Regions from separate parts of the Homo sapiens genome. Here all the other regions are linked to region 1. The links come from fine-mapping of genetic effects on gene expression. A gene starts in region 1. Each other region holds a variant in brackets. All regions are shown on one strand. Distances are between the middles of the regions. Region 1 holds the start of CCDC92 (coiled-coil domain containing 92). Region 2 overlaps CCDC92 (coiled-coil domain containing 92). Region 3 overlaps CCDC92 (coiled-coil domain containing 92).

Region 1 (2,749 bases):
TAGATCGTACTGCTAAATACCAAAACTTGAAATGAAACAATACAGGTCAGCATGAAAACCTAAGTTAGAGAAACTCACTCGCCGTAGCAGACGGCAGCCCAGTAGCCAAGCCTGGAGCTCTGCTGCGTTTGTGCATTCTGCTCCGTTTCACGAATCACAGGCAAATCGTTACTCAGAGTAAACTAAAGCCGCATCAAAGCTTCAGGAAGGGGCTGGCAAGGTAGTGTACTTACGGAAAGGCTACCAGGACGGGAGGCGATACAACTTGTCAGGGAGGGTCTCTAAGGTTCCCCGGGTGGTAACAAGCATTTAAAAAGGCGATGTGGATTCAGACGGCCTCCTCCCCACAGCATCCCAGACAAAGCCGGGCTAGGCCCCGGGGCGCTCCTGGTGCACCTGCAATGCGGATCCCTCGCCCTGCGATCCCACCCCGGGGCAGACAGGAGCGCCCCGGGACCGGCCTCTCCTCCCCCTTGGCACTGGGGTGGGCGCGCGCCGCGGCCGGTCCGCACCCTGGACTGGAGCCCGGGCCGGGGAGCCCCCTCCCCAGAAAGGGCCGGCAGACCCCGCGGGGGCGGGCGCGGGGGTCGCCGAGCCTCAGGGACCCTCTTTCCCCGACTCCGCCGTCTCCCGAGTTGCCTTCGCCCGGGGCCACCCCTGCCCCTGGGGGAGCTAACGTGGCTCCCAAGCCCCGGAGGTGGGGCAGGAGGACCCCGTCCCCCGTCTCCCGGCGGGGAGGGTTTTTAAAGTCTTCGCCACGAACTCCCGTCCCTGCCCGGCCCCTCCGCCCCTGCCCGGCCCCTCCGCCCCCGCCGGCGCTGCCAGGTGAGCGGGGCCGGACTCGACACACCCCGGGCCCCGCCTCACCTGCGGGCGCCGCCGTCGCGTTCCTTCAGGCGGCTGCCCTCTTAGGCTCGGTCCTCCCGGCGGGCGGCGGTGGGGGCCCGTGGCCCATGGGCTGGGCGGGGCGCGGCGGGCGGGGCTGCCTGGGCTCGGGCGCTGCCCGGGCCGGGCCGCCGAGGGAGGTCAGTGGGCACCGCCCGCCCGGCGCATCTCGCCCGCTCCCACCCCAGCGCTAGCCGCGGTGCACCCTGGGAGCGGGGCCGGCGGCGAGGCCTGGCCGCGCTGACCCGGCGGGCTAGGCGCCGGCGCGGCGGCGGGCCTGTGTCTGCCGGGCTGGGCGGGGGCGGCGGGCCGATATTCACTTGGCGAGGCGGGGCTACGCCCCCTTCCGCCCGGCTGTGGCGGGGCAGGGGCGAAGGCCGAGGGGAAGGGAGGGTCGGGCCCGCGGGACGCAGGCGCACAGCTCAGGTGCGGCCGCACTGCGGTTGCCCTGGGTAACGCGGCCCGAGGGAGGGGGGGGCGCGGGGAGGAGCGAGGGAGGCGAGCGGGAGCGCGCGCGCCGGGCGCTGGGGTGGGGGATGGCCGGGCCCGACCGGGCCGGGGCTGGGGGGCGGGGGCGGAGGCGGGCGGTGGGGGCGCGGGCCGGGTGGCCGCGCATGCGTGCGGCCCCCGCTCCCCCGGGGCTTCCCCGGCCTCGTGCGTGCGCACGCGCGCTGTCCCCCGGAGGCGTCTGGGTGTGCGGAGCGCGCGCGCGCGCGGCTCGGAGGCGCACCTGTGAGGTGTCCCTGAGGAGAGGGAGGTGGGTGCGCGGCGCCCGCGGCCTGGGGCGCTGACTCCCCTCACTTGGAGTGAGTTCTCGGCGGCCGGGCTGCAGTCTTTCTTTCTTTCCCGGAGGGAGGCGGGGGCCGGGGGCCAGGGAGCGGGCTGGGGGTGGGAAGGAGGTGGAGTGGCTTAAAGAAAAGAAAAACAACCCATCCCGGAGGATGGGCCTCGGGATGGCGGGGAAGGTCAGAGCGGCTCCGCGCAGCCTGGCGGGTCCCGGGCTGAGAAGCCGCCCCTCGGGCCTCGGGCGGTCGGCCGCGGGCCCGCAGTGCGGGGGAGCGGGGCCGGGGGGCGCAGATGGCGGCCGGTGCGAGCGAGGGCTGGGCAGCGGGCAGGGCGAGGCCGGGCGAGGCCCCTCGGGAGCCGGACTCCCGAGCCAGGCTCCATTGTTGTTGGAGCCGAGGGAAGGGGGAGCGCTGCCGCCCTCGTCGCCCGTGGAGCCGCGTCTTGGAGCCCTTCCAGGCGGGTCCCGGGAGAGGCGGTCATGGCCGCGCCAGGGGACCGGGGAGCCGGGCGGCTGCGGAGGAGCCGGCTGCATGGGGTGCTGTGTGTTTTTCAGGGCGCCCTGCGTCCGGCAGAGGAGGCGAGCATCCCGCTCAGGTGATGAGGAACCCCTCGCGCACCCAGCGCAGAAGGCTGCTGCCGCCGGACGCCTCCATTGTTTGACCACAACAAGGGCCGGATTCTCACCCAGGTAAACCGGCTGCCGGCGCTGTCCACTTCCCTCTGACTCCCGCCTCCGCAGGCGTTCTCACCCCTTCCAGGACTCGACTGCAGTTTTCTCACTGTCCCCGGCTTCTCATGAACTCCGTATACCCCCTCCCAGACATTTTCCCGTCCGGATCCATCTCTCCGCCACATCACCTCTCATTTCCCCCAGAACTCAGCTCCTTTGTGAAACCTTTCTTGCCGAACTCTAACAACTAAATCTCCCCGGGAGCCTGCTCCGAACTGAACTGTTCTGGTTGCTAGATTGCTTACGGGCTGTCTTATTGCAACAAAGGAGACCAGATACCGAAAAAAGATTTCTGAGCTATTGCCTTCTTCAAGGAACGTTTTCTGATATTTACAGTTTATTGTTTTC
Region 2 (2,749 bases), 31 kb before region 1:
TCAGCACCTCCTGTTTTGCCAATTTCTTGCTCTTTATAGAAAGCTCCACTCCACCTCCTCCTCTGTACGTACCCCCTTTCTGGAAATTTCAGTCTTCCCATGAAAGCTTGGTGCACACTGAGCTGACAGCAGCCAACTGCTGCTGGTCTCCAAACGCTGCACTGCTGAGCCTGCCCGAGCGTCAGGGCACTGCAACGCTTCTAAACCTGCGCACTCCCTGGGCCCGCCCAGACTTCTGGGGTCACAGCCCCCAGGGGAGGGAAGCCAAGAGTCTATGCTGTACCCTGGGTCCCGAAACTGCTTGGAATTGGGCAGTTTTGGGTGCACTAATGTAAAACAATGATTTTCACCACTGGGAGGGGAGACGCCCCGACTGGAACCACCTGAGAGGCTTTTGAAACTGCCTCCCCTAAGACACAGCCCTTGCTGTGAGACCCTGCTGCTGCTGGGAGTACTACATCAGGTGGGTGGGTGGGTGGGCAGGTGGCCTTGGGACCTCAGGTTGAGAACCGTGACTGGAGAGGCCACAGGGCAAAACTATGCTGCTTCAGATTAGCCTGGGCCAGGAGAGGACAGGGAGCGAGGACGCCCTGGCTTCCATGACACGGGTAGCTCCTTTCCCAAGGCTTCAGTGCTGGCAGGTGTGGACGCTGGAGGTCCCTAGTGTCAGGCTGAAATCCTGTTCCTCTGCATTCCCACAGGCCCAGCTCCCAGTCCCAGGGCTTCGGGGGAGGTCCCTGGTATCCCTCCACAGGGAGACTTCTGAGGACAGGCTCCCATTCCACCACCCCAAGAAGCCCACGGCGCCTTCCCTACCACACGCAGACAAAAAGATGTCTGGGCTCCTGGGTGGCGCACTCAGGAGGCTGTAATATGAGCAATGCAAATGGAAAAAAATCAGTGCTCGGTAATCCACTAAGGCTTGGTGGAAATGGTCTGTGTCTTTTACAAGGAACTGGACACTCTCATGAATAGTAACTGCCATTGTGAGGCCTGTTTAGAAAAAGGCATTGTGGGGAATGGAGAAGTTCTTCAAAGTTTCTTGAAACCATAAAGAGCTTGTCATTTCCTTGCTCTATGTATATCTCTATATATGTTCCAGTGTAGCTGCTCCGCCTTGCCCCGGCACGCCTGCGCAGGGCTGAGCGAGCCCTGGACCATAGTGCATGCTCTTCCTTATTTGGAAACTCTCCTGACCCTCTCATGACTAGCTTCCTCTTTTCTTTGTCCTCTTTCCCTTTTGCCTATTTAGGAAAGTTTCAAGCTGTTAGCCAATCGGGTCAAGCTTAGAATGTGAGGTCCCATTCCAGTCAATGGAAACTGGACACAGTCATAGGGCAATTGCATCAGGTTATGAAGATTATAAATGTCCTCGTCTCCTTTGTTTGAGTGTGCTCTCGTGGTAAGACTGCTGGCGAGTTGCACCCTTTC[T/A]GCAGAAAGTAAACTAGCCTTGCTGAGCCATCCATTGCCTTCCCGACGTGATAAACCCGTTTCCAACAGGTGTCTCTGCACAAACATGGATTCAGCACTTTCCAAACACCCACCCTGTTTTAGGGAGCAGGCTCTTTGCAGCAGGCACAGAGGGCCCTGGGAAGGCCTGGGTTTCTGTCTCTTCTCTGGCGGCCAGCAGGCAGCTGCCCTTTGGGGTTTCCTGAGGTCCTGGAGGATTCTGGTTTGGGGAGGGTTCTGGGGCTGTAGTCCAGAGAAAGCCCCAGATCCTCAGGGAGCTGTCTAGTAATGTGACCACTCGCCCGCCAGCATTTAGCAAGCTGCTGCTCTGTGCCAGGCCCATGCTAGGCGGCAGCGACACGGAGGAGCGGGGGCGGTTCTGCCCAATGCTGCTGCTGCTGTTACTCCTCCTTTTGGGTTTAACTCACGTCTATTTTTATGTCCTGATTACACAAGGAACACATGTTCATTGTAGGAAAATCAGAAAAACATATAATAGGCATTCCAAATATATGTGTCATTCAAAAGAAAACAAAATCACTCATCCCCCTGCCCACTAATAACCACTTGCAACACGGAGGGATCCAAACATCCTTCTCATCTTCTCTTAGAGAGCTCAGGCCACACGCATAACTCTTCCCAGCAAGAGCATTTTCTCCTAAGTGTGTGACTAGTGAAAACGGCACCAACACGTACCACAAAGGGAAACCTACTGTCATTTACTTCTGGGGAGGAGTTCTTACCTGTCTGTTCCGAACTTTTGACTGTCAGCTCATATGTTAAATCTAAAAGGGAAATGTTACACATTAATTCTTTTACTGTACATTTCAAAATCTTCATCAGCTTTGAAAATGCAAAACCGATTCCCACGATTAGCCAGCGAGTCCTACCCAGACAGAGCAGGGTTTGGCAGCAGGAGAGGTGAGCATGAGAGCAGCAGAAAACATCTGCGGCCACTGTGCTCCCTGGGGTCAGAGGGCACCCTCTGTTCCCCCAAACTCCCTTCCCCATTCCCCCACAGCATATCCCAACCATCCAAACCAAACAATCCAGCAGCTGGCTCTATGTATCACACAGGCTATATCTTGGTTATCAGTTCCAAAACACATTGGAGATTCTAACCATTGTATTTTAATCTCTTAAGTCCTCAGTATGCCAAGAAAAGGCTTTGCAGCTTTATGCTTAGTGCATCTTGATTATGCAATGAGGATGATATAAGGCATTCAGATGGACTCCTGCAACGATGATGGGAGCTGGGGGCAGGGCAGGCCTAGCACATTCTGACGCTGGGCTCTGCCGT
Region 3 (2,749 bases), 36 kb before region 1:
GGTTTTGTTTTTAATACTACTTTTTAAAAGGAATTTATATAATCAAAAAGTAAATATTGGAGAGTATTTTAAGATGTGTGGAGTTTTCTTTTCCTTCTCAGAGAAAACACTTGATTAGGCAAAAGTGCCTGGCATACATAGCATTGGCACAAGTGAGAATCCTAATGTAATTTCCAAAGGTGTGTTTTCGATGATCCAGGTCTGTTTCAGCAGATGCTCCTTTTTGGCAAGAAGGGCTGATGATGTCGGGCACAGAGCAGAAGTGACCAGTCACCTGGAGCCACTTCTCCCCCTTCCAGAACTCTCTGGCCCTAGCTTCTTTGGCTCTGACCTGCTACGGCGACTGTGAAGTTGTTGAGCTTAGTGTTTAGTTCCTGCATGAGCTTCTACCCCCAGCCTGCCTGGGTCTGTGTGGGGTCAGGTAAGGACACAGAACCTCCAGGACCAGTGGTCACTGGGCACCCCTTCCCTCTGTGCACCATGAGGCTGGCCTGGAGCCCTGGCTGGCCACCTGGAGGTGAGGGGTGGCTTCACTCCATGAGGGAGGAGAGGGGCTAGCACGGGCAGCACAGTGGGCAGGGGCCATCAGAGGCAAAAGCAGCTTCCCACAGAAGCTCAGGAGCGCAGCACATTCTAAGGACTAGCTCTGGGCCGGGAGGAGGCCGGAGTCGCTTCTGGGACCTGTGATTGCTCTCCCTCCTGCAGTCTCCTAGCCCTCCTTCAGGTGTTTGTTTAATAAAAGACACAAAACAGAAGGAAGGCAGGTTTAGAAAATAAAGTTTGTTGGGATCTTAAACATTTTGGATAAAACTAACAAAAAAATATGAACACACATTCAGGTTGTGGTGCTATGAGGAGTAGCGTCATCTTATTTAGTTCCTTGAGATACACGCACGGCTGCTCGGTGATCGGTGCCGCCCTGGGAAAGGTTGGTCAGGAGGTGACAGGGGTCTCCAGGAGGAGCTCGGGAGGTGACAAGGGTCTCCAGGAGGGAGCAGGGGCTGCTCGGCCAGGCTGCCCTGGAGCTTGAGGATAAGGTCAAGGTTGGTATGTGTTGCTCCGACTTGAGAATGAATTAGGTGTGTGACTGTGTGGCATCGTGAACATCAGTAGTGACGCAGCCGTGGCCTGGGCTTTGCCTGCAGCGCACTTAGGTTACACGGAGCGGGATCAGAAGCAAGCGATTCGGCACACAGGCGTTTGGCCACAGCAATTAGGAAATACATATTCTGCGGCAGGGACACGATCATATTTTGG[T/C]GTGAAGAAGAGGGCAAGAGAAGCAGAAGGAGAATGGGTCGGTAGGTGTGAAAAGTGTTTGGCATGCATGGGATTAAACAGAAAAGGTGTGGCTGAGATTTCCCAGTGGTGCTCACAGTGCATGGACAGCGCGGGGTGGGGCACGGCGGGCTTCACACAGTTCTGTCCGTCCCTGAGTGCTTCCTCACCACCTTGCCTCCGTTCACCTGGTCGACCGCCAGGGTCTTCACCTCGGGCTGGGCCTGCGGCGGGGTGGCGTGGTGGATCCGATGTGCCACCCCGACGTGGGCCTTGTGCGGCTTTTCGCGGGCCGGGCTGTGCTGCTCGCCGCTTCGGTCGGAGGCGATGGGGGGGATGACGAGGGGCCTCTCTTTGATGAGGTGGACCTCGGCGGACTCCCTAGCCAGCAGAAATGGGGTGGGGTCGGGCATAGCATCCACTGGTTCCCGCAAAAGGAGTTTCCTGCTCTCTGCCCCGAATCTGTAGACCTCTTCAAATTCCGGGTGCAAGGGGGCTGAGAGGCTCTTTTTCATGCGGCGGCGAGGCGTTTCGGGTAGCTTGTCTTTGGGGGGCGCTGGCTTGTAGCTGGCCAGCACGGGGCTCCCTGACGGGCTGGCATCTGAGGTCCCGCTGGAGCTCATGAGCTTCTTCTTGGCGGCGTGCAGCTGGGAGGTCAGGTAGGCGATGGTGCTGGCCCGCTGCTCCAGCTCGCTAGACAGCAGGGTCAGCTTGTGACTCTTGGCCTTCAGCTCCTCCAGGTACTTCTTCTCTCGCTCCTTGATGGTGTTCTCCAGCACTGTGATCATCGCGTTTTTCTGCTCCAGTTCTTTCAACAACTCAGCATTTTCGTTCTCTTTCACTTTCAGTTGGGCTTCCAGCTCTTCACATCTTTTCTTTAATTCACTGCTTTTAGAAGTCCCGTCTCCTACAAGAATAAGCCGAGGAAGCAGGTGAAGAACTCATTAGACTGAGGCCGAGTGGTGAGGCCTATGGGGCAGGCGGACCTGTCTGGTGGGGGCCCTGTCTAGGCTGTGGGGGCCATGCAGAAGGCAGGGCTGTGGGGGCTCTGGAAAGACCCCTCCCCTCCCCGAGGTGGGGAGATCGGGGCATCTCAGAGGCCCTTTCCGGCTCTTAGTTCTCTGGCCTACTGCATAAAAGAATGTCTCTGAACCTTAAAGATGCTGAACTTAAAACAGGCAATTGCAGAGTATCAGACCTCAGCAAACACTTAGGATTCAACTGGCCGCAAATCCCTCTGTCTGCTCAGATGGCATTTATGGAATGCCTGCTACATTCAAAGTACTGTTTTGAAACTCAAATGTAAAAAGAATTATCCATGTCTATTGAATTAAAATTCTGATGTTTAGAGGAGAAGAGGTGTGGGGCTGTCACCTTTGCTCTGCCGCTGGCCGCCTCTCTCACCCCCCTACCCCCGTCTCTCTCACACACACACACACACAGACTCTTTCCCACTTCCTGCTCAGAGAGTGAG

What was found.
Region 2: its variant is fine-mapped to the expression of CCDC92 in whole blood (TOPMed, PIP above 0.99).
Region 3: its variant is fine-mapped to the expression of CCDC92 in sun-exposed skin (GTEx, PIP 0.99). The same link has a PIP of 0.9 or more in visceral fat.

The regions. Positions count from the first base shown.
Region 1 is chr12:123,971,662-123,974,410 of GRCh38, forward strand. CCDC92 (coiled-coil domain containing 92) reads right to left here and starts at 1,170. Exons shown (of 5, transcript NM_025140.3): 1 at 868-1,170. It overlaps ZNF664-RFLNA (ZNF664-RFLNA readthrough), which reads left to right and starts at 1,554. Exons shown (of 5, transcript NM_001347902.2): 1 at 1,554-1,642; 2 at 2,225-2,359. It overlaps ZNF664 (zinc finger protein 664), which reads left to right and starts at 1,554. Exons shown (of 5, transcript NM_152437.3): 1 at 1,554-1,691; 2 at 2,225-2,359. RefSeq lists enhancers at 1-654, 655-1,392 and silencers at 613-732, 763-1,632, 1,703-1,782, 1,893-2,122.
Region 2 is chr12:123,940,552-123,943,300 of GRCh38, forward strand. It overlaps CCDC92 (coiled-coil domain containing 92), which reads right to left. Exons shown (of 5, transcript NM_025140.3): 4 at 2,193-2,234. Among named protein-coding and RNA genes, the nearest start is that of DNAH10OS, 6.9 kb to the left of the region's middle. The variant T/A (reference allele first, on the strand shown) is at 1,432.
Region 3 is chr12:123,935,649-123,938,397 of GRCh38, forward strand. CCDC92 (coiled-coil domain containing 92) reads right to left here. Exons shown (of 5, transcript NM_025140.3): 5 at 1-2,182. The coding sequence ends at 1,410. DNAH10 (dynein axonemal heavy chain 10) reads left to right here. Exons shown (of 79, transcript NM_001372106.1): 79 at 1-66. Among named protein-coding and RNA genes, the nearest start is that of DNAH10OS, 2.0 kb to the left of the region's middle. RefSeq lists an enhancer at 2,401-2,749. The variant T/C (reference allele first, on the strand shown) is at 1,258.